Regions from separate parts of the Homo sapiens genome. Here region 2 is linked to region 1. The links come from fine-mapping of genetic effects on gene expression. A gene starts in region 1. The other region holds a variant in brackets. All regions are shown on one strand. Distances are from middle to middle. Region 1 holds the start of LEKR1 (leucine, glutamate and lysine rich 1). Region 2 has its middle 8.7 kb from the start of LINC02029.

What was found. PIP is the estimated chance that this variant, and not a neighbour inherited with it, causes the effect.
Region 2: its variant is fine-mapped to the expression of LEKR1 in hippocampus (GTEx, PIP above 0.99).

Annotation. Positions count from the first base shown.
Region 1 is chr3:156,822,801-156,835,609 of GRCh38, reverse strand. LEKR1 (leucine, glutamate and lysine rich 1) reads right to left here and starts at 9,257. Exons shown (of 13, transcript NM_001004316.3): 1 at 9,234-9,257; 2 at 6,233-6,324. The coding sequence starts at 6,280. RefSeq lists a silencer at 8,116-8,410 and an enhancer at 8,725-8,784.
Region 2 is chr3:157,065,161-157,081,188 of GRCh38, reverse strand. No RefSeq gene overlaps it. Among named protein-coding and RNA genes, the nearest start is that of LINC02029, 8.7 kb to the left of the region's middle. The variant T/G (reference allele first, on the strand shown) is at 8,793.

The DNA.
Region 1 (12,809 bases):
TATGGATTGGGGAATGGACTGATTACAGATTGAGCTGATTGGCTTTGGGTTGCCCAGTAGCCTCAGTGAAAAATGTCCTTGCAATGAGATACACCATAAAATCACTATCTCGTCCTATAGCGTTTCTCTTTTGGGGGACCCAGGATTAGGCGTAAAAACGGAGCCCTTGATTTTTGGGGATCTGTTCTATCTTACAGCTCTGCCTGTCAGGCCCTGGAAGCTGCACGCTTTCTTGGCCCTGTTCCTTGAAGGGCTCCACCCTGAAGCCACAAATCCAATTTAGAAATTTACATATTTAAGAAAACCCCCATTGGTAAGGGTGCCTGCCTGTGTATATTAGAAACTATTATCATACAATGTTTTGGCTTAATGTCTCAGCTCTGTGCTTTTAAAATATAAGTTCTCTATCCTGTTTCACCTAGGAGCTGTCCCTTTAGAAATGCAAATTTAGAGTTGCCTAGCTGACAATTGTTTAGGGCAGGGAATAGGTAATCAAGAAACTGATAGTCTAAAATAGGAAATAGAAACTTAAAAACTGGCAAACAAAAAAATCTTACAACTACCAGATCCATTTCCTTCCATGTAATTATATGTGTTGTGTGTGGGATGTTTACATAAAGAACTCTAATTAACTGGTTTAGGGAAGAATGAGCCCTAAAATAAAATATTTTGTCAGAAAAATAGAAAATTTAATGCCTTTTAGTGTAGATGACTTTAGAAATCTTTGTTAAGTATAGTTTTAAAGATTATTGGTAAAATAAAAACATCTTCAAAATTTAGACATTTGGTCTACAGTAGGCAGACTGAATTCTGTCTTTGCTATACGTTTTAAGGTTATAAACTACTTCTATGATATTTTTGAAAATTGACTTGTCTATTCTTCAGTCATTAGATTTTAGGTAAGATCTGGGGACATATGGAGTTAGCCCTGTCCTCTGACTAGGCTAGGAAGAGTCAGACACTGTCTAAAGCTCTGTTCTTGTCCTAGGCTCTGCAATCTGATACATGGTTAAAATTACTTACTTACCAGGTTCCTAACCAGAAATAAAAGTGACTAAGAGTTAACATATTAACATTGAGACTACTAGAGAAAGTTTATATACAAGTTATATAAAGGAAGTAGAATGTGTTTTTGTCTTGGAAATATGGCTTTTGTTCAAAGGAAAGTAATCACGTTGAGTTTGGAGATTTTTGAGGATTGTCCCAAAAAGATATGACAATACTGAAGGTTTAAGCAAGTTGTAAAAGATTTATAATACATTGATCTTGTAAAGGAAGCTCTGTGGGTGTGAGCAATGTAGCCAAAAGTTGAACGGGATTATTTAGTTTTTCTATAAATTAAAACATTAAAATAAAAAGCACACTGTTACAAGGCCAGAATCTGGACCCATGTGTCAGAATAATGGTTTTCTTAGAACATTGATCTGCTCTTTAATAAATTATAAAAAGTTATGGGGGTCTGCCCTGTAATAAATTATAAAAAGTTATGGGGGGATGTTTAGGAAAATCTTACCTTATGGTCAAACTGATTAAGACTGTATAGATTTGTTTATAAGGTTTTATTAAAAAATTGGGCCTAACATTAATAGTACATTAATAAAAAGGTAAAATTTGGTTTTCCTCTTTTGAACAAAGTTTTTTTGTAATACTGAGCCACAATGAAATGTTTTTGCCTTTTAAGTAAACTGCAAAAAAAAAAAAAGGAAAAAAGGGGAAAGAGAGATTCAGGTAGCCACATGCTACCTTTATTGGGTATGCTGTTTAGGTTTTTGCCTTTTGAAATTTTTGAGTTATCACTTCTGCTAAATGAATAACCAATGATACTATTTTATAACAGTAAGTATTCTAAACCTTTGATATTTGACAAACCTTCCAAAATCAAAATTTCAAGTTCTAAATTCAGTCCTTTTGATTTCATTAATTTTTTCAATATTAGGTCCCCTGAAGTCCAAAAGAGACATCTGGCTTATTTGGCATGTTGACATCATAGAGTGAGCACTGTCAAGTATGAATTGGTATTTGGCTTTCTTTGGGCTGTATTTATATGAAAGTGTTATTGGTATGTGTTCCAGAATTGTGCAAGATTCCTATAATTTCAATATGACTTAGTGTATGTTATCAGTAATAATAATTGTTATATTAAATTGTATGCCACAAAAATAACCAAATTTCCTTGTTAATTGAGTCTTAAACCATAGCTGTTTAAGCCTCTTGTCATCCACAGTTATTTTTACTTTGATCCTTTTCAAAAGGTGATTTTATAATCAGCTATGGAACTCTAACAGGTGCTCTTGAATGCAGATTTCTGATATCTTTAAAGATTGTGCCATTAATATAGAGGGAGAAACTTCTAGGACTCTCAGGAAGAGCTGAAGTGTTCATGAATATCAAACAGAACAGGAATTAACTGTATGGACTGAACTAAGAGAATAATGAAATAATCTTTCTATGACTATTTGTTTGAAATGTTTCTGATCCTTTTTGTTTTTCAGGGTCAAAACACATAACAACTTTCCTTTTGAGCTGTTTATAGCTTTTAACAATTGAATGAAGCATATTTCTATCTGCAAACTTTGGAGCATATTTCTTTCTCTCTACGTGATTTCTCCAGAATTTTGAAACTAATTATGAGTCTTCTTAGCATATGGCAATATAGTTTTTTGCATAAGTTCAATAAGAATGTTTTTTGTTTTGCTTTGTTTTTTGCAACAGGACACAACTGGAGACACTGATTATTTTACCAAGGCTTTGACTGGAAATGGCATGGTTTCAGGCTGCTTTGAGTAACTGAGGTTGACTTACAGAGCTGATAACAGCCCCTTGGAAATACTGGTCTCATACCTTGTCCTTTACAGGGCTCCTAACCCGTAGTAAATAAAGAATGTCACTTTCTGACAGACCCAGGAATCCCAAGTTATTGTGGGACCTCAAGAAGAGAGAAATTCACCCAATTCATACAGGTATGTGCAGGCACAGATGAATCCTTGGCTGGGCTAGAGACTTTTAAAAGGTCTAATCTGAGATTCCTTATGAAATAAATTCCAGCAAAGCCAATTATTTTTAGAAAAAGAACCTATTTGGCAAATAACTATTCTTGCTGCATTTTATGCAAATAACCAGGCCAAATATAATGGGACTGGAACTTATTTTGCAAATAAATTGGTCCTACTATGATTTGTGTTTGGTAGAAATGGGGAACTGGAGAGAGAAAAATTGTTTCAGAAAAAAACTATAGTACAACTGTTATTAGATTCCAGCCTTATCCACTATGTTTGAGTCTCTGCTAATGACCCCATATCTGATTGATTCTTGGGGTCATTCACCTGTATCCCTTAAGGCTTCAGGTCAGTTCTACAGGGATTCCTGAAGTGAGGACTTTCTCTCCTTATGTTGGGGCTCATTATTTGTCTTATAGTCCACCTGTTCACTTAAGTGCTGTGTGAAAGCTGTGGATAAGAGCACCAATGTTTTCTTATGCAGACCTTGGGATCTCAACCTGGCACACATGAATACATACCAACAATTACAAGACAGTTTCACTCCTCTTACCCTGAGGGCAACTCCCACTCCAAATCTGCCCCTGTGAGCAGGAAGAAGTTACAGTGGCTGTAGGCCTTTTTCCATTTCCATAACACACAGATTAAAAATAAGGTATGATGAAACCCAAAGGAGGGGGATTAAAACTGTCTTTGCAAAAATTGTAACAGTGAGAAAATTCTGACCTAACCAAATTCAGTCTTGCCTTTAACCTCCAAACTGCCCTTGGTCATTTGATATGGTTTGGCTGTGCCCCCACCCAAATCTCATCTTGAATTGTAGCTCTCACAATTCCCACATCGTGAGGGGGACCTGGTGGGAGATAATTGAATCATGAGGGTGAACCTTTATCATGCTCTTCTCATGATAGTGAATAAGTCTCACAAGATCTGATGGTTTTATAAAGAGGAGCGCCCCTGCACAAGTTCTGTGTTGCCTGCCATCATGTAAGACATCCCTTGTTCTTCAGCCATGATTGTGAGGCCTCCCCAGCCATGTGGAACTGTGAGCCAATTAAACCTCTTTCCTTTATAAATTACCCAGTCTCAGGTATGTCTTTATTAACAGCATGAGAACAAACTAATACACAATTTCTGGGTATGGGCCAATCTAACTTTGGGAGAACTTTATAGTTTAAATAATATCCCTTAAACTAAGCCATCTTTGTAAAACTAATAAAAGCCAAAAGGTTAAGAGAATTAGAGGGGTCTGCATTCTGCTAATATGTAGGTGTAAATGACTAGGAGCCATTATTCCAATGGATTTGCAACTTCCCTAATTATTCCTGTAATTAACATCACTATTGTAGAACCTACAATTGGCCTTTTGAGATGTTTTTTCAGGCTTTTGTATTTCTAATGACTGATGCCCCACTTGGACTCTCCGTCTTCACACATGGACCATTTTCTACACCCCTATGACTGCATCCCCAATCAATCAGCAGCTCCCATACCCTAGCCCCACCGCCTGCCAAACTATCCTTGAAAATCCCTACCCTGCAAATTTTCGGAGATTGATTTGAGTAATAACTCCATCTGCCACATGCCACAGTGGCCTCATATCAATTAAACTTTCTTTACTGCAAAAAAACAAAACAAACAAATACAAAAACAATAAAAAAGAAACCAAAAACCCCCTTTCTTCTTAATGATTTTCTTAATGACATCTGGGAACTTGTCTGCTGCATCTTGGTCAGCAAAAGATGTTTCCCCTGTTATCTTGACTTTTTCTTTTTTATGCCAAACCTCTTTCAAAAATTACCAAACCATCCTTTGCTGGCATTAAATTATCCAGCTTTAGATCTTTCACCTTTTAAGTTGCCATATAATGATTTTTTTTTCTCTCCGAGACTTTTCACCACTCTCTGCTCACTCTGTGGAATGACTTTGTTTTTTCTTGAATCATATTAGAGTCTACAGGTATGCCTTTCTTATAACAATTCTGCACCCACATAAAAACTATGCTTTCATTATAAGAGATTTTGCAAAAAGTACATGGTTTTTGCACCTGTTGGCATAGCTGTAGCTACAACATCATAAATTTCCTTTATATATACATATCTAATGGTCCTTACACTGGATTCATTTATCTTGAAATAGTGGGCAACCACAGCTGCACACCACATTCTACAGTACACATCAAGCAATTCAACTTTTTCTTTGTAATGTCATGACTTTTCTCTGCTTCTTGAAAGTACTTCCAGCATCAGGTAGTGGCATGCTAAATGTGTCCTTTGTTGTTATCCAAAGCTTATGAAATTGCACTAAACATGATGAAAAATACACAAGAACTTCAAGATCACTTTTTCCTGAAGGGAAGAACTGCTCACATGGCCATGATTATCACACAGTGTTTTAAGGAGATAATCACAATGCCTGAGCTCACTGCAAAAGCAACAGGAGGTAGCTACAAAATTATTACATTTGTATAGTATATATTACAGTTAATTTTACGTAGTTACAATTTAATACTTCTTCGTTATGTTTTTTTACATCTCTTGACTGCAAATAGCACCACGTAGTTTCTTAAGTGTCTGTGTGCATAAGTTTTGATAAATTTTACCTTTTTATAATAGATTTGTGCATATTTTATGGTAGTAAATGACAAAATAGACTAGTGTCTACATACATTTTATGCATTCATGACATGCCTTTTTCTTAATTTTTTCAATATTTCTAGGCTACTTGGTTCGCCTGTGAGTTTTTTCAAACCATTCCAAATCTTCAAAACATTTTCCAATATATTTATTTTAAAAACCCACATATAAGTGGACCTACACAATTTAGTTCCATGTTGTTCAAGGGTCATCTGCATAAAAGGGGCTTAAAACAGTGCTTGGCACACAGTAAGTACTGAGAATTAATGTTGGTCAAACCATAATAGAGGCTTAGAAATCCAGCCCCATTAAAACACACATGGACGTTTCTGATGCCTGCTTTTCACTAGGGCTCCACAACCACCTGGTCAAATACTGTACTGGAATTAGATATATGTCTTCTTCCATAGCAGCAAAATTCTTCATACTGAATTGAATTCTACAATTCTGCTCATTATGATAATAATTATTCCCTCTCCCACTCCACCAATTCATTCAGATCCTATGACCAAAATTAATGAATTCACTCCTCTAGGTTTTAGAATTATGTAACTGCTACATGTTCCCACTGTTAGGCTGTAGCAACACAATATATCATACCTTTTGGATTTCTTCAGGCAACGCATGCATGGGAATGTGATGATCCATAACTTCCCAAAATATGGTGAGAGAGCTTTGAAGCCAAAGGAAATCTAAGAACATTGATGGCAACAGTCAGAACAGAAATAATGTAGAGAACATTCAAATTAAGATGCTTTATAAACTCCTAGAAGTATTTGGGGATGAATGGTGATAACTGTTTCAACAGATGCTTATTTCATCAGCTCAATGTTAGAAGGTACAGTTAGGGTTTTCTCCGTTAGTTATTGGGCCAATAGAACAGGAGAGAACTATAGAGACTGCTAAGTTAGAAAGAATATTTTCTCTTTTGTTAGAACTTTATAGTCTAATAATTTCTGTTGTGATTTACTACTAATTGTTTTTCAAATACATAATGACTAAAATTTTAAATACACATTTCAGTGTATTTTAAAAATCAAATATTTTTCTGAAATGCTGCTAGAAAAAGTATGAAAATATAGTATTTTAGCAGATGAAAAAAGCAATTGTGGCATGAATGCTGGATTAAATGATGAAATACAGAAAAAGAGCATTTAGAGATACCATATTAAATATGATATGCAAACACTGAACAGAAGAGTGATCAAAAAATAAGAAGCCAAGTGCCAATTTTATCTAAGATGGACATTTATATAATTTTATGCAGATATTTTACTTTTAACAGATTTTCTTTTTCTAATAAAAGCCATTCAATATAAAGGTCAGTCACTACTTTCATAAAACCAGAGGATAAATGGAGGAGCACTTTGGGTTTTTTGTTTTTTTTTTTAAATCCTTCCCTCACGAGTAAGGGCTGTTTATACATATCTAAGAAGTCAGGAGAAGGGCGAGGGCAGTGGCAGCAGAGTCAGATGATACAGGCACAATTCCATAGCAGGGAAGAAGGCATAGACAAGAGCAGTCTAAGAGTTCAAGAAAGGAAAAGATCTTATGTTTCAGATGAGAGGTGGGAGTTAGTGAAGGCTTCCTGAGGTTGCTTGTATTCAATCAGGGCAGGATTTTGACAAGAGACTGGAGAAGCAAAGTACTCTATCAGAGAGAGCAACCCCGGCCATACAGCAAGGTAGCAGGGAAACCGTAGTTGTCAAAAAGTCCTATAGTGGCATTATCTTTGTAAATGGTGCAACCACTAGTGGAAGAGAAGATTCCTTGTTCCCTGTGTTAGCACAAAGACTCATTTCAGTGAGTTGCTGTTTAAAACCAAAAACTAATGAGCTTTATGTCTTCCCACATAAAACATAATATGACATGTGTGGTAAAGTTAACTGAGGTCTGCAATGGAGGTACCATTAACCATGTCAACATAAGCCCAAACATAATCTGATGTTTGGCAGATTGTCATAATCATGTGGCAAGAGCCCAGAAGGCTCATTATTCTCATTTCTGTCATTTAATGGTGGATTTGCCATCAGTAAAATGAAATAGTAACTTCAACTCTATTGGGAGAATTTTCCAAAAAATTACCATCTAAACATCCTTTTAAAATTTCACCCATAAAGTTATCTGAGAGCACGGATCTAAATGACAGTATAAACAAAGCACCAGTAGAACAGTTTTTGTGTAGTGCCTTCATTGTCTGTGAATCTATTCCAACTTTATGGCCTTAGCATAAGAAGGGGAGGAATTGGCAGGTTCTGATTATCGGGGGGAAACTAAAAATTAAAAGTCCTGCCAACCCAGAAAATGCTCCACAATGCAGAAAGACAACAATTTTATTAGGCATTCAACTAGACTTTGATGCACATCACGGCTAATCTGCTAATGAGGTTACAAAGAGAGAAGGAAATCCCTCTTTTATACAGCCAAGGAGACACAATCCATTACACATTCTCAAGGAAACTGGTAACGTGTCCTCATGTAAGAGGGCTTAACATAGTGTTCTATACATTCTTTTATATTTCCTCTTTAATTCATCTGGTAATTGGGGTAACCACCTGTGTTAGCTAACGGCTTTCCTCCTAAGTAATGCACAGCTCCATAACGAAACAGGTGTTTACAATTAGGAATAACGCACCTAGGTTAAACTCCCAAAGTGACAAGGAGACTGGGGCCCTATCTTCCTTGATGTTTACATTTTAAAGAAATGGCTTCCAGGTCCTCAAGAAAAGCATTCCTAGGTCTTTAAAAACATTTGCATACATATTAAATAGAGGAAGCATTCACAAATACTAAGTTTCTCAAGAAAAAAGAAGGGTCTTTCCCTTTTGGCAACAGGGAAAATCTGTAATTTTTTAAATTTAGTCTTACATAGTTTTGCGTGTGTTATCAAACAAGTCCCTTTAATCCTTTCTCATTGCACGTATGTGGACCGCACTTTGGCAAGAGGTGCAGTGATAAGTGGCTGCAGCTACGTGGGTGTTTGTGAACCTCCTCTCTAACAAGATCACCGAAAAGACATTTTTTAAAATGCAGACACGTCCTTGTTCGTTTCCAATTCCGTTTCTCACACTAGTGTCACGTCAGGCCATTAACTCACGTTCAGCTTTCAAGCCCTTACGTAAAGAACCATTCCCATGGCGTGAATCACCCACAACGAGCAGGTCAGGGGCAGGTGAAGGCGGGAGTTCACATCCTAAGACTTTCCTGAAGCGGCAGGCTCTTCCACACAGAAACCAACCGCAAGGCCAGACAAAACTGCTGGAATGGCTTTCAAATCTGTCCCTTTCTAACCCCGTTCCCCCTGGACCTGCAGTGGCCGGAAGAGGAGGAGGAGGAGGGTGCGGGGGTGAGGAAGCAGAGCCGCGCGTTCCCCGGGGCTGGGAGGAAGGCGGACCGCGCCTGGGCCCCGCGGGCTGGCAGACACCAGGAAGGGGCCGCAGAGGAGCGTGGTGGCGGAGTCCAGACCCGGGGCCTCGTGCTCTCGCTGGGGCGCCGCGGCTCAGCTTTCTGGCTCTCTCCCCGGGTGCGAGCACGCCTCCACTCCGGAACTGCATTTGGAGGACCGGGTCATCCCAGGCTGAGGAAAGCCATCGTCCCTCACCTCGACTTCGACTAGGACGGGTGTGAAACGGCTTTCCCGGTCTCCCGGGCGACCGCGCCGCCAGTCGGCTGGACGTCAGGGCGCGGCGACGTCACGGCCCACGTCTGTCGTCAACGCTCCCCTGCACCGCCCAGGGTCTCACGCGCCGGGCGGAAGTGGGAAAACTGGTGGTGGGGCTCGGAAGGCTGGGCTAGTCTTACGCGGAATGCTGTGAGAGGGAGGGAAGGGGATCGAGGGATGAGGTGGGCGAGAGTGGGTCGGGTGCTTGGTAGCGACTGCTGAGATGGAGGGAGCTGTCCCAGCCTCGTGGGGGGTTGGAGAGAGGCACTGCCGGGAGTCGGGAGTCGGGAGCCTATAGCCCTACCTATCACCCCTTGCTCTGGGGCCTATGTGGTAGACACAGCAGTGAGCAGTTACTGTTCTTGAGCAGAGGAAAAAGAGATGCCTGTAGAGGTCATGGGTGTAAAGGGAAGTTCTGGTTTCAGTCATTACAGCCAGGACAAATTAATTGGGAAGGCGTTGGTGACATTTCCATTCTAGTCCAAAGTAGTGAAGATTAAGGGCTTAGTTCAAAAAGTATTTTGAGACCTCCTAGTCTACACTTTATTTATCGCAGGCTACCCACCCTTACACGTGACTAACTTCCCTTTGTTCATACATTCATTCATAAAACAAGTATTTATAGACCTACTACGCGACAAGCAGAGCAGCATACCGAGATAGGGTGATACTCTGTGACTGGTCAAGGCAGGAGCAGCCATTGGTGTAATTAGCAGGTGACTCATTCGTAGTCCAGATCTTGCCTTTCTGAGGATTATATAAGGTCGAAGTACAGTTCTTCCAAGAACCAAAGAAAACATCGATGGCTCTGTAGCAGGCAAAGAGACTGGTTTGCTATTGAATAAAATAAGATTAAGTAAATACAAAGAAAATTAATTGAACCTATAGATTTAGAGAAGTGATTAAATGACGCAGAGCAGTATCGGTACACCAAACTGCTTATTGATAACTACTAATTAATGACACCAGGAAGTACTGAACACTAGTGCCTTGTTCCTTGGCACTAAAAAGTCTAGTAGATGTGGCTGGGCGCGGTGGCTCGGGCCTGTAATTCCAGCACTTTGGGAGGCCAAGGCGGGCAGATCACAAGGTCAGGAGATCGAGATCATCCTGGCTAACACGGTGAAACCCCGTCTCTACTAAAAATACAAAAAAGTAGCCGGGCGTGGTGGCGGGCGCCTGTAGTCCCAGCTACTTGGGCTACTCGGGAGGCTGAGGCAGGAGAATGGCGTGAACCTGGGAGGCAGAGCTTACCCTGAGCCGAGATAATGCCACTGCACTCCAGCCTGGGCGACAGACCAAGACTCAGTCTCAAAAAAAAAAAAAAAAAAAAAAGTCTAGTAGATGTATCTTGTACATTTAACCTGACTGATATTTTTGCCCCAATGCCTACCCTTGATTTTCTGTTTCCACTCCCTCAAAGAAGAAAGGATTAAGAGGCCTAGAGGACAGTCAACCAAGTGGTCAACTATAACATGCTTATGAGAAGCCCAAATAACTTTCAGAGCTATTCATCCTCGTCATATTTATCTGAGAGATAGTGAGGGTAGGACTGCTCTCATTTTGTGATAATGGAAGTTTAGATACAGGGCACCAAAACTGGTACCTATCTGGGACAGGAATTTGCACACCTAATGCAAGATCACTCTGTTCTGAGGCTAGTTTTCTTTATTGAGTACTTTGTTTATAGGATAAGGAAAGGCAACACTTTAAGGATGGGAGAAAATCCAGCTCAAAGGCTGCAGTTCACTCCTTGGTTTAATTTCATCTGTGTTTATTTGTCTGCATATTGCCTTTGAGACCAATTTCCTTTCCACTGTAAATTTCCCTTAGACCTGCACTGTCCAGTAAGGTGGCCTCATGTAACTAATTTCACTAAAATGAAGTATGTTTAAAAATTCCATTGCTATATTGCATTAGCCATATTTTAAGTACTCAGTAGTCATGTAGGTAATGTATGATACACCATAGATACTGAACATTTTCATTATCATAGAAAGTTGGGCTGGGCGTGGTGGTTCATGCCTATAATCCCAGAGCTTTGGCAGGCTGAGGCAGGAGGATCTCTTGAAGCCAGGAGTTTGAGACTGGCCTGGGCAATATAGTGAGACTCTGTCACTATAAAAAAAAAAAAAATTAGCATGGTGTGGTGACACACACCTGTAGTCTTTACTCAGAAAGGCCTAGGTGAGAGGATCACTTGAGCCCAGGAATTTGAGGCTGCAGTCTATGATCTGGCCACTGCACTCCAGTCTAGGTGACAGAGCCCGACCCTGTCTCTTAAAAAAAGAAAACAAAGAAAAAGAAAGTTGGAAAGCAGTAGACCCCAGTAAGAATTTCAAAGGATAAGAGTTAAGTTGTGATGAATGACATTTTTTAAAGCGTAGCAGCAAAAAGTGTTATTCCTGAAAGAAGATAGTGCAAAGGAAGTGTTGTGACAAGATGTTACAAAATAGGTTTAAGAAAAAAAAAAAAGCCACGAATCCTGTGCCCTATGTTGGTGTTTTGTCTTGGTCTCTCCCTTTTCAGGTTTCTCACTTGCCCTCCCTCTGTCTTCCCACCCCATTACTGTCCATACTAGAATTGAAGTACAATTTAAAATAATCCCATCATTGGGCATATTAAATAAAGTTTTGGGTTACCCCATTAGTTTTTAATTGAGCTAATTTTCACTTTTTACTTCGACTTTTAAAAATTATCCAGTAATAGCCAAATTAAGCTGCTGTTAACTTCTTTTTATGACCCTTTATTCCCCGCTCCCAACCCCGTATTGTCAGTGATCCCTGGGGAAGGAAATGCTCTCAGTTTTTGGAATAGAGACGCTCTAAAGCGACTAACCTAGGGCTTTCCACATGGTCTGCAGAACTTTGTGTTGGTTTATGAGGACACAGTGTCTGTGCTTTTGTTACTGTTGTGAATTTACATAAAATATGTATCCAGCAGGGAAATGTCGTTCTTCACTTCAAAAAGTAGTTTTATGCTCCCTCCTTTGTTTCCTCCTCCCCCACCATGAAAAGCATGTAGAAGAGGTATGTTGCCTGCAATTCTGATAAAAATGTAGGAACTCTATCCAAGCGAGAGGCGACAGCGTGCTGGCAGTCCTCAGAGCCCTTGCTCGCTCTTGGCGCCTCCTCTGCCTGGGCTCCCACTTTAGTGGCACTTGAGGAACCCTTCAGCCCACTGCTGCACTGTGGGAGCCCCTTTCTGGGCTGGCCAAGGCCAGAGCTGGCTCCCTCAGCTTGCAGGGAGGTGTGGAGGGAGAGGGGCGAGCGGGAACTGGGGCTGCGCGCCGTGCTTGCGGGCCAGCTGGAGTTCCGGGTGGGCGTGGGCTTGGCAGGCCCCGCACTCGGAGCAGCCAGCCGGCCCTGCCAGCCACGGGCAATGAGGGGCTTAGCACCCAGGCCAGTGGCTGTGGAGGTTGTACTGGGTCCCCCCGCAGTGCCAGCCCACTGGCGCTGCACTCGATTTCTCGCTGGGCCTTAGCTGCCTTCCCGTGGAGCAGCGCTCGGGACCTGC
Region 2 (16,028 bases), 240 kb before region 1:
CCAGATCACAGAAGTGAAAATCTTTGTGTAGAGATGAGAGCTGCTTCATACAACATCAGAGAGTTTGAAGGTTATAGTTCTCCTGCCTACCAAGAATATCTGATTAGAAGCTTTTTAAACTTTGCCTTAGTGAAGTTAAAGACTCTTTAATAAATTGCATCTTTAATTAGAATAAGAACAAACCAATCATATTACATGAACCAATAGAGAATGATAAAACAGTCCTAAAAGAAATGGTTTTCTAATGGAATCAGAATTCATATGCAAACCTTTTCATGCTGCAGACTTTTTTGAAAAGTCCCGATTTCATTCCAATAGTATTCACAGCTGAGAAATATCTTTTAAAGATATAGCATGATATCAAGTTACTTTAATAGTTTGCAAAATGCTCTCAAGAATTACCTAAAAATATGCAGTTTCTATGATACCATAGATGAGTTCATCTAAAATTGTTTGATCTTCAATTAAAAACATAAACACACTTGGATATATTTGGACACAGATGTTGCCAGAGTTTCCAGATTTCATTGTTCAAAGGTATTTCATAAATATGAAAAAATGTGTTCAGAAGGCGTCCATCTGATTGGGTATTCAGGCTTACAAAGAAAGTAATTACAGGGGCAGAGACTGGGAGTCAGCCCTCATTCATCTCAATTCTCTCTCACATATCAGCATAGCTTGACTTTGATTTTTTAGATGCAAGTAAAGGACATTGATGTAATTCAAATAAATTAGTTTTTTTCAAATATCCTGAGGAGTCTGGAATCAGACATGACAGACTTGATGGACAAAAGCCTGAAGGAGAACCAACTCTGAAGTCGTCATAATGGTTCTAAAAACAGTGTCTTTCCTTCTTATTGACCTAAATTTTCATCTTCTTTCTAGGGAACATTTGCTTGCCAGGTCCTTGGAAAAGGTCCACCTTTGGCTTCTCCTCTCCCTTCCTTCTCTTCTGCGTTTGCGTCTTCCATTGAGATTCCCACCGGGGAATGTCGCTGCCGCCATGGCATCCTCTGGTCAGCTGAAGTGACCTTCAACCTTCCTTGCCTTTCTCTGAGGGCAGGGGCCTTGCTTCTCCCATTAACAAAGCACTTTCGGGCAACTTTTAGGTTTCTTCACGGTTGATTAAACTGTGTTTATTTAGGACCCTTCTCCTCTTTCTGTTTCCGGCTGCTGACCTTTCTGCTGGTTCATTGTTGGAGGAGAACACTCACAGGGCAGTCTATCTGACTGCTTGTTAGCAGCTTTGGTAAAGATTTTGTTCTGGAAAACGTTCAGCCTGTTGAAATACTAGTGCATCTTCAAAGCATATGACGTTTTGCTTGGATAGTGTTCAGAGTTGCTGTTACTGGGTAAGGCCAGAAGCACATGAAAGAGAGAAACCTGAGGTAGCCTGTGAGCTGTAACTGCTAGCATCTCCCTTGAACCTGGTGCATGTTGATCTTCTTGCATGAAGCTCCATATGGCTTCACTTGGTATGTTGTGGTTCTTTTTTTTTTTTTTTTTTTTTTTTTTTGAGCTGGAGTCTTGCTCTGTCGCCCAGGCTGGAGTGCAGTGGCACAATCATGGTTCACTGCAGCCTTGAACTCCTGGGCTCCTGAGCAACTGGGACTATGGGCGCGTGCTGCCATACCTACAAAAAAAATAATTTTTATTTTTATTTGTTCGGAAAAAGGGTTTCCTTATGTTGTCCAGGCTGGTCTTGAACTCTTAGCCTCAAGCAATCTTCCAGCCTCGGCCTCCCAAAGTGCTACGATTACAGGCATGAGACACCACTCTTGGAGATTTTTAATAAGAGTAGATGGACATGGTTTTGTTGCTTGGAAATGGGAAGAAGAGAGAAAATGAGGCACAGAAAGTTTTGTTGAGTGGCCAAAAGATAAGCCAGGACAAACACCTTAAGCCAGAACTCCATTTTTGGAGATTCTTGTCTGTAGGACAGCGAACACCCCTGCTGCCACCCTGCCCTAGATTCTCAGGCAGGCTCTGCTCCCCAGTAGCCCCCACACTCCAAGGCCCAGCCAAATGCCAGTTCCACCACATGCAGGCATCAGTTCTTTCTCTAAGCACTGTGACATGTACTTGCTATACCTCTCAGAATGGAATTTTTGTGTTTTGCTTATTTGTGTATGAATCTTATCACACTGGCTTGATTGCAAGTGCTTGGAGTGTGAAATGTACTTCTGCATGCCCAGAAGCATGTGGTACATATTTTAGTGAAAGCAAATGGATAAATGGAGGTGCAGAGTGATGCCGTCCCTAGTTCTTCTCTTTAATGCCACCTACTCACTTGGATAACTTGCCCTCCGCATTCCTCACACTATGCTCAGCTCCCAGCTTCTGCAATTGGTTTGGCCTTACTCTGTAGTTTGGTTATTTGTCCATCTCACCTTTATATCTCTGCCTAGTCATTGTTACCCATCTTAGATGATAAACTCTTAGGGGACTGAGGTTCCACTTAACTCCCTTTGCCTACCACTTGACAAAAACACAGGGCATGACTAAACACTTAATGGACTTCAGAAGATGATACTTACAATCAGAGAAGTGAATCACTAAATCTGATCGTCCATCCTCTCAGAATGAAGGTTGAATGGTTCAGGACTTTGTGAAGTTCTTAGTCACCATTGCCCCCTTCCTCATGATGAATCTTTTCCTATGCATTTTGTTTAGCTGCAGGATAAACTAAGAATAATATTTTCTTATTCTTAGAAAATAAGATTAGAAGACTGCTTCTAAAGGCCAGGTTTCTCAACAGCAGCATGTTGACATCTTGGGTTGGATAATTCTGTCGTGGGGGCTGTCGTGAGCGTTGCTGGACATTTTGCAGCATTTCTGGTCTCTACCCATAGATGCCAGTAGCATGCCCCACCATTTTTAGACATTGCCAGAAGTCGCTAGGGTGTGCTGGGGGAGCAAAGCCCCTGGTTGAGAGCTACTGCTTTAAGGGATAAAGGTGGAAGAGGGAAGCCATGGAGGAAAGGAAATGATAGTCATAACTAGGTGTTCTTCTTCTCTTTGGAGGTTTTTGTTTTGTTTTTTTAAAAATGAAAGCAGCATGGTGTTCTGCTCTGACAGTTGGGAGAGGAGAGTCTTGCAAATGCATTTAAATTATACAGCATTTCACCACTTTGCCCTTTTTCTCCCCTTAGGGGCTATTTTTTTTCACCATTACCACTAGGTTGGACCTGCTTTCTGTGGCTTGATCCCATCTTGTTTTAGGAATAGCTTTCTGGAAGCTCTGACGGGCACATGATGACTTGCTGGGAGAGGCACCAGCAGGCTGCTTTGCTGTCCTAGGGCCCGGACACTGCCCTCATGAGGATACTGTGTTTAGGACTCTGCTTTTCCACTTTGCTGATCTGGGAACTAGATTTTTTTTTCTTTTCCCTGTGAATTAGTAAGCCACTGGGAGCAATAATTCACCAAAACTGGACTCACCAGACACTGGGTTGCACACCAGACTATTACAGTATTGCTTTAAAATGCGTATCCCCAGAGCCCTCACCTGGAGTTGGAACGTGGGCAAGCAGCATGAAATGTAGCCCAGAGTGCATGTAGGGCCCCAGGCCAGTGGGCCCCAGCCCTGGCCCAGATGTCTGGCCCTTTCTGTCTCAGCTGCCAAGGGGATGACCTTTGTGGCCAGGAGAGGGTGGGACAGAGAAAAAGCTGGGATTTAAGAGAAGAGTGAGAGCTTAAAGATGTGCACGATCTTTAGAAATAATTTGCGGTGTCTGCTTCAGTGAATGTTGGTGTCCCAAGGCAGAGTGCCAGTCGTTCCCAGTGGACACCTTTCCAGAGTGGCCTTCGGTTATCAGGATAACCAAAGAACTGCAGTAGCTGTGGCAGAGGTGGAGTCAGGACAGAGGGCGTTGGTTGATTTCAGGAGCTATTCTCGCCAGGCTGTGGGAAAACCTGATGAAAATGCTCTGCTTCTGTACGGAGCTCATCTCCCTAGAGATGGGCACACTCACTTCTGCCCTGAGGGGGAGCTGCTCTCTGGCTGAAAGGGGCTGTGCCTCCCCGGCACAGGCACTGGTTCTGCAGATCCCCCAGCCCTTCCTCCCTTGTAGACCACCTTTCTTTGTCATCACACTCTGTCATCACATGCCCTATTTATTTATTTATTATTTTGGACGGAGTCTCGCTCTGTCACCCAGGCTGGAGTACAGTGGTGCGATCTCGGCTCACTGCAACCTCTGCCTCCTGGATTCAAGAGATTCTCCTGCCTCAGCCTCCCGAGTAGCTGGGATTACAGGCACACACCACCATGCCTGGCTATTTTTTTCTTTTTTTCTTTTTTTTTTTTTTTGTATTTTCAGTAGAGATGGGGGTTCACTGTGTTGGCCAAGCTGGTCTCGAACTCCTAACCTCAAGTGATCTGCCCATCTCAGCCTCCCAAAGTGCTGGAATTACAGGCGTGAGCCACTACGCCTGACCCATGTGCTTTTTCTTTTCTTTTTTTTTAATTTCAAGGGTCTGGTCACCTGCATTTGCTAACTCGGTGAATGACCTCCTGCATTCTGGGTTTGTTTAGTAAAGCTCCCAGAACGTAGAGACCAGCAGGGCTTACTTCTGAACAGAGCTGCAGCCTCTTTGCTGCCCCTGAGCTAGAGCAATGGGTCACGAGTGTTCTCTAGGTTTGTCCCTTGCTTTACCCTGTGGGATATTCCTTCTCTGGAGATGTTTTCTCTTTGATTGTAGCTAAAGCTGACAGATGTTTCTGCTAAGTGGATGGTGAATGCCTTTGGAAAGTTTGTATTTCTCCCAATAGAGTGGCAGGAAAAAGAAAGGAACATTGTGGTCTCCGTGTTTTCAACCAAGGAAAGTGGAAAGCAGAAAGCCATCTCTTTTTCTACGCTGTCAGGGTGCCTGGTTCTGTCTTTTGAGCCCTGCCCATCTTCTGGGTCCTGGCCAGAGCACATCTCTGCTGGGCTGGCAGCAGATCCTCAGGATGTGGAAATGCATTGGCTGGACCTGTTTTTGTGTCAACGAACCAAGTGGGGCATTAAGCTAACCACACGGAGAGGCCCTTTTCTCCCCTTGAGTCATTCTCACATCCATTGCTGGGCCTTTGTCAGAGAGTCCTTTGTCACTTTTGAAAATGTTATTTCTTAGGAAATAAAAGAACAGTGTATGGCCATGGTTAGTTTTGCTGGTAAGTTCTATTACTTGACACACAGTTACTGTAATAGAAAAATATGAATCTGATCAGTGTGTTAGGTCTGTTACTACCACAACCATCATCTTTGTCCCCAAACACCACGATCCTGCACTTCAAAAGCATGTTCTTCAAAAGCCATTGTTGTTGGGGAAGCAGGACAAACTGTGCTTGTCTAATGCTGATTTCCTCTAAAAACGAAAGAGAGGAGAATGAAATGAAGCCGTGCAGTTCCAACAGAGCTCTCTGCAAGTGTTGTTTCCATACTGGTGTGTTTTGTCACTGATTTTGGTCAGGGATGTTCAGATTTTCTGTTTGCATTTAATTTGCATTGCTTTTTGTTCAGCCCTGTATAGGTCCACGTTCTTCGCACTCATTTAAGTTAAATGTGCCTCCTTAAAGGTGTCTCCGCATCTTCAGAGGACATGAAAAGATGCAGGTCAGGGATTTGACAATGCGGTTTTGAACCCCAAGGATCAGCATGGAGCAGCTTTCTGGATCAGTAATTCTACTCGTAAACTTTTGGGAAATGTTGTTTTTATATTAAGTGGTGGTGTAATAATGGAGTTGAGTGCTTAATTTGCATGAATTTTAAAGATAATGTTCAATGCATCGAAAATATTCAATGCTTATAACAGGTGCCATAAGTGATCCCCTCAGATTCCTGAAGTGGGTAGAATTATGAGTCGAATTGTGTCCTCCCAGAATATGTTGAAGTGCTAATCCTATCCCTCAGTACTTCAGAATGTGAACTTATTTGGGTATAGGGTGATTGCAGTTGAAATTAGTTAAGTTTAGAAGAGGTTACACTGGAGTAGTGTTGGCTCTAGTCCAATATGACTGGTGCCCTTATGAAAAGGGGAAATTTGGACACAGCCATGTGCACAGGGAGAACACTATGGGAAGATGGAGGCAGAGATCAGGGTGATGCTTCTGCCCAACAAGGAATGCAAAAGATTGCCAGAAAACCGCCAGGTAGGTAAGAGGCCTGGAACAGATCCTTCACTCACAGCCCCAAATTTTAGACTTTTGGCCCCCAGAACTGTGAGACAACAAATTTCTCTTGTTTTAAGGTACTCAGTTTGTGGTACTTTGTGACGACAGTTCTGGCAAACTAATACATGTGGCCATTCTCTTCTCTTGCTGAGGGTGCTTTATTGACAGAGCTTGAGGAACACTGAACTGGGTCATGGAAAGAGCTTAATTTTGGAGTCCAGAGAGCCAGCTTTGGATTCTGGCCATGCCACCTACAAGTTGTGTGTCCTTGGGCATGAATCCAAATGTCCTATTGTGAGCATAAGCAGGAGGGTGCATGTAGTAACACCAAGAATGGAACCTGGCAACCCGGTGGGTTCTCAATGGATGCTATTCTTACCTTGCCTTTCCCTTCTGAGCATTTGTCTAAGAGATGAAAAGCTCAGAGCCTGGAAAAGTAAAATGCCTTGTCCTCAGTTACACCGTGAGCCGCTGCAAGGCTGGATATCAAGTCCAGGCCACCTGATGCCACACCTGCTCTGTGGTTACCCTTGATGTAGTCTTTGGTGATCCTCATGTCCCCATTATAAAAATTCCCCACATATTGTGTCCTATAAAGAATTATAAAGGACAATCTCTAGGTCCCAGATGCAGTTTCTACCATTAAGTGAAAACCACCTGCTCCTGAAAGGTTCTTGCACTACCCCAAAAGCCTTTGTAACAAAATAAATGCCCCAATGTCATTCTCATTTTTTACATATTCTTGACACATAATTGTTAGCATGAGTTGATTATTGGCTCATGAAAACTTATATTTTATTAAAAGGCGTTTTGCAATGTTTCTTATAGGAAAAAGGTTTTGCATCTTTTAAGAAGGAACGAATCAGAGTCAGAGGGTTGATGGAGGTTGTGAAAACTGCAGAGGACTGTCCTGCAGGAACACAATCTGGTTGCATGGTAATGAGGCATAATAAACAAGGGATTCAAGCAAAGCCACTGGTGGTGACTAATTCCAGATGCTAGGTGGCATGCATGCATTACATCTTTTTAACAGAAAAAAGCCACGGAGGAGAAATCAATTTGCAGATTCAGGAATGTTGCTGAAGTTATGTTCCAGTGTCGATAAAGATCAAGGGCTGGAGTCCAGCCTGCATGGATCCTGCCTACCCTGAGGAAGTCAGACACACTCTGGAAAGAGCTACAGATCTCCTTCTCCAAAACATACCCCAATACACGTCTCTACAAAACGTTTCAAATAATTACCAGGGGTTCAGCCCCTCTCCCAGGCTCCCTTCGACTCACTCTTAGGTCCCTGAACTCCAGGTTAAAAACCATCCACATTTCCCTTATTGGCCTCCCTCAAAAAACAAAAACAAAACAAAACAAAACAAAAAGAAAAAAAATTAAGTCCTAGCTTAAAGGACATTTTATGACTTCTCTTTTATTTTTTGTTTTTGTTTTGTTTTGAGACAGAGTATCGCTCTGTCGCCTAGGCTGGAGTGCAGTGGTGCGATCTTGGTTCATTGCAAGCTCGGCCTGCCGGGTTCACGCCATTCTCCTGCCTCAGCCTCCCGAGTAGCTGGGACTACAGGCACCCACCACCATGCCCGGCTAATTTTTTTTTTTTTTGTATTTTTAGTAGAGACAGGGTTTCACCATGTTAGCAAGGATGGTCTCGATCTCCTGACCTCGTGATCCGCCTGCCTCGGCCTCCCAAAGTGCTGGGATTACAGACATGAGCCACCGTGCCCGGCCCATGACTTCTCTTTTATTTAATCACCAGAGGCATCTCAGAAAAAAAATCATGTGGCCTGGAGCAAAGAATAATCATCGATACAGTAGTATTAGTGGGAGAAACTAGAAACCACGGTTTACTGAATGAAAAGGTCTATCAGAGTCTGGACGCCTGGCTGGGTTTTAGGCTCTTTCAAACATGTGGTCATGTGAGCATGAGTGAACTTCTCTTAGCCTCAGTTTCTCTATGAATGCCTGCAGAAGTCACAGCACCCACCTCACAGCTGCCTTGTGAGCAATAAATAACATGTAGATCTCAAATCACCATGTGAACTGTCAATGAACAGAAAGCGGTATCATTCATACGAAAAATAAACTTAGTGACAAAAACACTTAAGCATTTATATTTTTTAGAACTTTGTTCTAAAATTTGAGAATTTTAATACATTGTAATAAAAAATATATTTCATGAAAAAACAAGAGAATGAAAGATTTGATCCTATTCTATCCGTGTTTGAATTTTTATGTCTAGAGGGAAAGCCTAACCTAGAAATTGCAAACCAGTCCACAAGTATGTTGTTTCATCTGCAGAGTGTTAAGCAAGCTTTGTTTTGTTTGTTTTTTAAATAAATTGCCAACATTTAAAACTGTAAGATTTTCCCATTAAACAAACCCTGAGCCAGGTGTGGTGCACACCTGTAGTCCCAGCCACTTGGGAGGCTGAGGTGGGAGGATCGTTTGAGCCCAGGAGTTCAAGGCTGCAGTGAGCCATGATTGCACCACTGCACTCCAGCCTGGGTAAGAGAGTGAGACCCTGTCTCAAAAACAAAAACAAAAAACCCCAAACCAAAACAAAAACCCAGGATTTTCAGTTTCTTTCAGAAAAATAAAAGCAGAATTCATAGCACAACTGGTGGGGTTT[T/G]CTACAGCCCACTGTGCCCACTCCTGGGCTGTTTGCTACCCTGGGCCAGCCACAGCCAAGGTACCTCCTGGTGTCACTTTCCCACCAGGAGGTCTAGAGTTTCAAGTAGCTCCTTCCTTCCTTCTTTCCTTCCTTCCTTCCTTCTTTCCTTCCTTCCTTCTTTCCTTCTTTTTCTTTCTCTCTCTCTCTTTCTTCCTTTCTTTCTCTCCTTCCTTCCTTCCTCCTCCTCCTTTTCTTTCTTTCTTTCTTTCTTTTTCTTCCTTCTTCCTTTCTTTCCCTTCCTCCCTCCCTTCTTCTCTCTTTTTTTCCTTTCTTTCTTTTCTTTTCTTTCTTTCTTTCTCTCTCTCCTCTCTCTCTCACTCCTCTCTCTCTCTGTCTCCTCTCTCTTCTCTCTCTCTCCTCTCTCTCTCACTCCTGTCTCTCTCACTCCTCTCTCTCTCCTCTCTCTCTCTCCTCTCTCTTCTCTCTCTCCTGTCCTGTCTCTTCTCTCTTCTTTCTCTTTCCTCTGTCATCTCTCTCTCTCTCTCTACTCTCTCTTCTCTCTTCTCTCTCTCTCTCCTCTCTCTTCTCTCTTCTCTTCTCTCTCTCTCTCTCTCTCTCTCACCCAGGCTGAAGTGCAGTGGTGTGATCTCAGCTCGCCGCAACCTCCACCTCCCAGGTTCAACTGATTCTTATGCTTCAGCTGCCCAGGTAGCTGGGATTACAGGTGTGCACCACCACGCCCGGCTAATTTTTGTATTTTTAGTAGAGATGAGGTTTTGCCATGTTGGCCAGGCTGGTCTCTAACTCTTGGCCTCAACTGATTTGCCTGCCTTGGCCTCCCAAAGTGCTGGAATTACAGGCATGAGCTACTGTTCCTGGCCTCAAGTAGCATCTTCCTAAAAAACATTAAACTTGTAAGGAAACAGCCAGTGCTTGAGACCAAACATGGGGTGTGTGGTTGCTTGCCCCTCAGCTTTGTTTTACCCTCGGGTAAGGCTCCTTGGCCCAGATGTGGGGGAACACTGCCTGGGTAGAGGGAGACTTTTTCTTGTGAAATGAGCACAGGATCCTTGCGAGGACTAAGTCAGATGACATATGTAAACACCTTGCAAGAGTCAACATTCAGGAAATGGTAGTTCTGAGCAGGGGCATCCCAGACCACTCAGGACATCACAAGATTCTGACAAGTAATCTGTACCTCCAACTCCAAGGAGCAATGGTCAGAGTTGGCACCACATCTGTTTGCCAGGATCAGCTTGAGGAAGAGGGTACCCCGTGAGACCACAGTTTCTGAGGAAAAGGACACAGGCCATGGGACTGGAACCCAAAGTGGAAACAGACCTTAAGTGCTAACATGGATGCCTTTTGCCTTTGGTTACTCACTCCTGTGTAACGACGAGTGTTAGAATGTCCAGGGAAATGTGCTGAGCAGAACTGTCTGTTTTAACAAGGCCACATGTAGCAGAGTCGTTTACCTGAATTTGCTCCAAAGAAGACATTACCAGTGATAGCCTGGTGCATTGGCCCCAAGGGCTCACTTCCAGAACAAATACACAACCAACTTCCTACAGAGAGCCCATGGCCAGGGGCCTGTAAACCTAAGGAGGCCTGGGCTTCTTTGGTGTGGGAGGGAAGCAGCTGCCAGGCACTGCTATGGGCCTGACTGGCATTATCGTCAAGGAAATCAGCAGTCCCCAGAAGCCATGCCTAGAAGTGATCTCACTGCTTTCTTCTCCCTGCCAAGGATTCTACGCAAGTCTGTTTTATAGGAAGTTGCCTTTCTTTTGAGCAGAAGAGGACCTCCCCTGTGTTGAGCAAAACGTGAGTAAATGATTACTGGCAGCTGTAAAAGGATCTCATAAAGCATTTCTGTGATCCCCCCAAAAGGACCTGATTTTTATACATTTGCCTTTTTAGTTCACTTTGCAAGTACAAGGCTGTTAAAGTCACTTAATGATGCCAGGGGTAAAGTTCACTTTAGGAAATGGGGTAGCCAAGGGTTTGGGATTTCCCCACACTGTTTCCTTCTCCATCTCATGAGCTGACAAAAGCAACTCTCTGAGTCCCATACCCAGGAACTTGTACTGAGAAAAATAATCCATATTTATTTGCTATTATAAACTAGGGTGGTCTTCAGAAAGAAAACCAGGGCTTTTTCCCGGGTGGGCCCTGCCCTGGAGTGGGGCAAATGATGTGGCAGTGAGCCCCATACTGGGGATGTTGAGAGGAAAAGGGTGCATTTTTGATGGGAAACAAGAGGTCATCTCAGTTCGAACTGTAACCAAGGCGGAGATTCTGAGCCAGGGTAGGAGAGTCCACAGGCTGCCCAGAGTCAGGGAAGTCTGGGTTGGAGCACATCTTGGTGGTCACTTACGGTCAAGATCCCCAGGGATATCCCCTGCCTGCCCACACCCAAGGGAAGCTTTTTCTCTGTTGAAATCCCGAATTTCCTACAGTGGCTCCAGTCTCCAGAGATTCCCTGGACAGATGCTCTCTCCAGATGAACTTTGTCCTCTGACTTACAACAATCACAACTGTTCCCCACATCTGCTTCCAGGAGATCTCACTGGCTGGGGTCACTCAATCAGTATAGAGATGAGAATCTGCCCTCCAATAAATCTTGAGCTTGGGTGGCTTCCTACTGCCCTTTAAGCCTGTATCCCTCTACCCCCAAGTCTACCTCCTTGATCTCTGGGCAATTGAGTCTGGACAATAGTTACTCTCTCACCTCCAAATCTCGAGTACTGCACCACTTAGCAAATGCATCAGGTTTAAAAATCCTGCCACTTAACGTAGGCTTATTTTCTGTCTAAAATGTGCAGATGTTTAATTGTCTCATCTGTGAAATGATGACGAAAATAGCTTATCTGGTTGGACCAGACAAAACTGAACCTGAGCATTTCTCAAGATCTCTTCCGTCTCTGGAATCCATGATTCTGAGATATTTTCAAATATATGCACTAAAAATGAGTTTTTCTAAAACCAAATTGTGATTCATGTGAATTACTAACGACTGAACCAAATACAGCAGCTTATTTAGTTCTGGCCTCAGGAGAAATCTTTTTTTTTGAAACAGGGTCTTGCTCTGTCACCCAGACTGGAGTGCAGTGGCACAATCATGGCTCACTGCACCCTCGACCTCCTGGGCTCAGGCAATGCTCCCACCTCAGGCGATTCTCCCACCTTAGCCTCCGGAGTAGCTGAGACAACAGGCGTGCGCCACCACACCAGGCTAATTGTTTTATTTTTTGTGGAGATGGGGTCTCACTATATTGCCAGTGGTCCCAAATCCCTGGTCTCAAACAGTCCTCTCACCTCAGCCTCCCAAAGTGTTGGGATTACAGGCATGAGCTACCACTCTCTGCAGGAGAAACTTGTAATTTACTTTTAGGTGAAAAGTCTCTTCTCCACTAAATACTGCATAAAAATGGCAAGATTCTCTACTGAATATTAATGTGACCGTAGCAAACAAAGGAAGAGACTATAAAAGTCTGAAATGTAAATATGTGGCCCACTATTCCAAAATAGTAAATGTAACAAAAGGAAGAAAGTCAGCCTCCTCCACCCTAGTGCACCAGGCGGCCTAGGGCAAGCCACAGAAGTCAGCCCCTTACTTCCTTTCCCACCATCCCACCAGGCAGCATCTCTGCCTTTGCTCACATTCTTCCCTGAGTCTTCAGAGCTCCCCGTCCTGCTTCACCTGTGTGAGGTTTCCTCATCCCTGCAGCCCCCACAGCTCACATCTATTTTTTTCTGAAAACTTTGCATAGCCTGCCTGCCCTCTGGGCCGGCTGGAGGTCATCTCTGCTTCTCAGGTTCCCAGCCCCTTGTATGCTGTGACAGCACTCGCCACCCGCTCCTGATATGGCATTGCATGGTTGGTACGCACTTGTCTGTCTCTGTCACTGGACTTAAGTTTCTGGAAGGCCGAGACGCTCTCTGTCATCATTCCCATGGCCCTTACACAGGTTAGACATCCAATACATTTTTATGAAATTTAAATGAATTGAAGAAGGATGACAATTTTCCTATCCAGATGTGTATCTCTACCACAGATTATTGGAACAGACTGTAGTGCGAAAGTGGCAGTGACTTAGTCAATGTAGCCAGTGATTCTGAACGTTGGCACCATTGACATTTGGGCTGGATAATTCTTGGTTGTGGGGGGCTGTCCTGTGCCCTGCTGGATGTTGAGCAGCATCCTTGGCCTCTCCCCAATGGATGCCAGTAGCACTCCTCCTCCTCCTCTTCCTCCCAAGTTATGATATCAAAAACACTGGCAGTATCCCCAGTCATTGACAATGTCTCCTGAACTACCCCTGGTTGAGAACCACTGATGCAGGTGATTCCCAAAGGAGGCTGAGAGAAAGTACCAGACATGATGCTCAGTGATGTCCTACACAGTGTCCTGACTCCTAGAGTCACCGTCATTTTAACACAACAGTGCACAGCAGCCACTTACACCTCTGGCCAAATATTTCTCCCTGACAGGCTATCACAGTGCACGCTAGTCAAACACTGGAATTTTCTTTTCTTTTTTTCTTTTTTGAGATGGAGTCTCACTCTGTCTCCCAGGCTGGAGTGCATGGCAAGATCTTGGCTCACTACAACCTCTGCCTCCTGGGTTCAAGCAATTCTCCTGCCTCAGCCTCTTGAGTAGCTAGGACTACAGGCATGTACCATCATGCCCAGTTAATTTTTGTGTTTTTAGTAGAGATGGGGTTTCATCATGTTGGCCAGGCTGGTCTCGAACTCCTGTCCTCAAGAGATCCACCCATCTCGGCCTCCCAAAGTGCTGGGACTACCGGAGTGAGCTACCACGCCCAGCCCAAATGCTGGAATTTTCTTAAAGGAGGTGGGGAAGGAAGGAACTGAATAAGGCCTCATCCCCTTTGAAATATAAATACCTTTGTTTAGGAGGTTGTGGTCTTGGAGCACAACAGCTACTAACAGGTGCCTGGGGTCATGCCGGGAAACCACAAGGGCAAAAAGTAACAACAACAGCTGATTTGAGAGACATATTTTTCCTTAGAAGGTATACAGGGCCATCACTGCTTGAAATATTCACACATACAAATTCAAGGAAGGGGCACACCTATTTGGCACGAGCCCTGTGGCTGTGGTTAGAGAAGATTTGAATATTTTGAGTGTGCAGGAAGGTGAACTTCATGTATCTTTACCTTAGCTTCCTTAGGCTGGGGCTATCTGTCAGCTACAGAGCAGCCCACAGGCAGGCGGAGCTGTGATGAAGCACATTTGTTCAAACACAGCAAATGGTGTTTGAAAAAACCACCACTCTTGCTTTTTTATGAAGCTATTACACTCTGTCATGTCAGGGAGCTGAGCCCAAGTGATGCCCAAGTGGCCATGATAGACTCACACTACAGGGCCTGGGAGAGCAGTGGGATTGTTTTTTTTCCTCGTTGAGGCAGTAAAAGATTGATTTTTGAGGCAGTGACTGAGGCATTATGCATTAATGACTACGCAGGGATTTTCATTCACATATCACGCACTGACAGTGGAAACTGAAGCTGCTGTGTAAGGTGCTGGCTCAATGCCCTTCCATGACTCCTTCCTCATCACGTCATTTGCCTGCCGAGATGCCGGGGCCTTCCGAATCATGGGGTCGATTGAGTAAAGGGCCCATGGTTTGGTGCAGGGCATCTCAAGCCAACACACGAGAATAACTGATGCAGCTGCTGAGATGAGAAGGTCTGCCGCAATGCTAATAACTCCACCTGGCTGCTCTCACATTTGACTTCTTGTATTCAGATTTGGAGAGACAGCTGGGAGCCTCTGATGAGAAAATAAAAAATTTACAACAATAAGCAAGCTGTCCTCTGACACCAGGAGAGGAACTCGCTTCAGCCCTGGCAAGAATTGCAGCTGGACTTTGTGAGGCACTGTTTCATCAGATGCCAAACATCATAGCAAGGGCAAGAATGACAAGAATTACAGTTTCTGCCCTGATGCACAGGTACTGATGGAAGAGATATTTCTGTGTTGATTTTGCACTTCTCAGGGCAAATCTGCAAAATAGATATCAAAGGAGATGTGGGCACTGGGCAAGGAGCCACACCAATCAACCATATAGAGCAGTCTGGAGGAGTCTCTCCCCATCTCCAACCCTCAGTTTTTCCCACCTGTTAAACACAGGCCACAATGTCTGTGCAGCCACCTCGCAGTGCAGTTAAAAGAACCGGTTTAAACAGTGTTTCTTAGCTTAGAGTCAATGGCTGAACAGGTTGCAGAGGGGCTGTAAAATCCTGAAATTTGCATGAAGCAATTTTTCCATATATGTCCATGTGCATCTTTTTGAGGAGGGGTTTGTCGCTTTCACTATATTCTTAAGAATATAGTCACTCTTAAGAGGTTAAGGGCCACTGTTCTAGGTAATGTGTGAAGGTGATGTATGTGTCCTGTAATTGAGCTATTATCAGCAAGCTTTTTGAGGAAAAAGGGACACAGAGGAGCACTTATTATGTGTTAGGGACTGTGCAGGACACACAGAGAATAGAAAAAAAAATGACCCTGGCCTTCTGGAGCATATGATAGACTTTAGATATGAGCCCAAAACAGATTAAAAGTTAAAAGGAAAAGCTAAGTGTAGGCAACACAGGTGAAAGGTCAGAAGAATGTAAGTGCCCCATAGAAGGAGAGAAATGGACTTCCAGCTACAGTGGGTTTAGGGATGGACACAGAGCGAGGGTGGGATTGAGTACAGGGAAAGGCAGGCAAGAGCATCTGTGGAAGAGGGATGGCCGGTGCAGCAGAGCTTGCATGCTGAGTTGACACGCTCCATGCCAGAGACCCTTAGATTGGGACTAAGTGTCACCGAAGAGAAGGCTGCGTTCAACAGATAGTTCTCAGGGTGACAGTTCATCCCAGGTGCCCTCAGACCCACATGACCTGCTCTTGGTCCTTCAGCCTCCGCTCTGCAGATGGGGCTGAGGGGCCCACCCAGAGAAGCCCTGTGGGGGAGAACAGAGCCTGCCCAGGACAGATATTCTCCTCCTTAGGAGCAAGTCCTCTTGACCCCCATGTTCCAAGCAGGAAGCTTTTCACATGTAGACTTTCTTCCTGCTGTGATGCACAAAAGCAGCCTCTTGCCAGTTAACAAAGTCTGCTGGAGCCTCCTGGGGCCATGCCTAGCACATCGTTACCCGAAGCAGACTAGGCAAACAAAGCCCTAGAAAATGAGAAAAAATGGAAATGATTTGATATTTTAGAAAAAAATATTGAAGTGTTTATCGT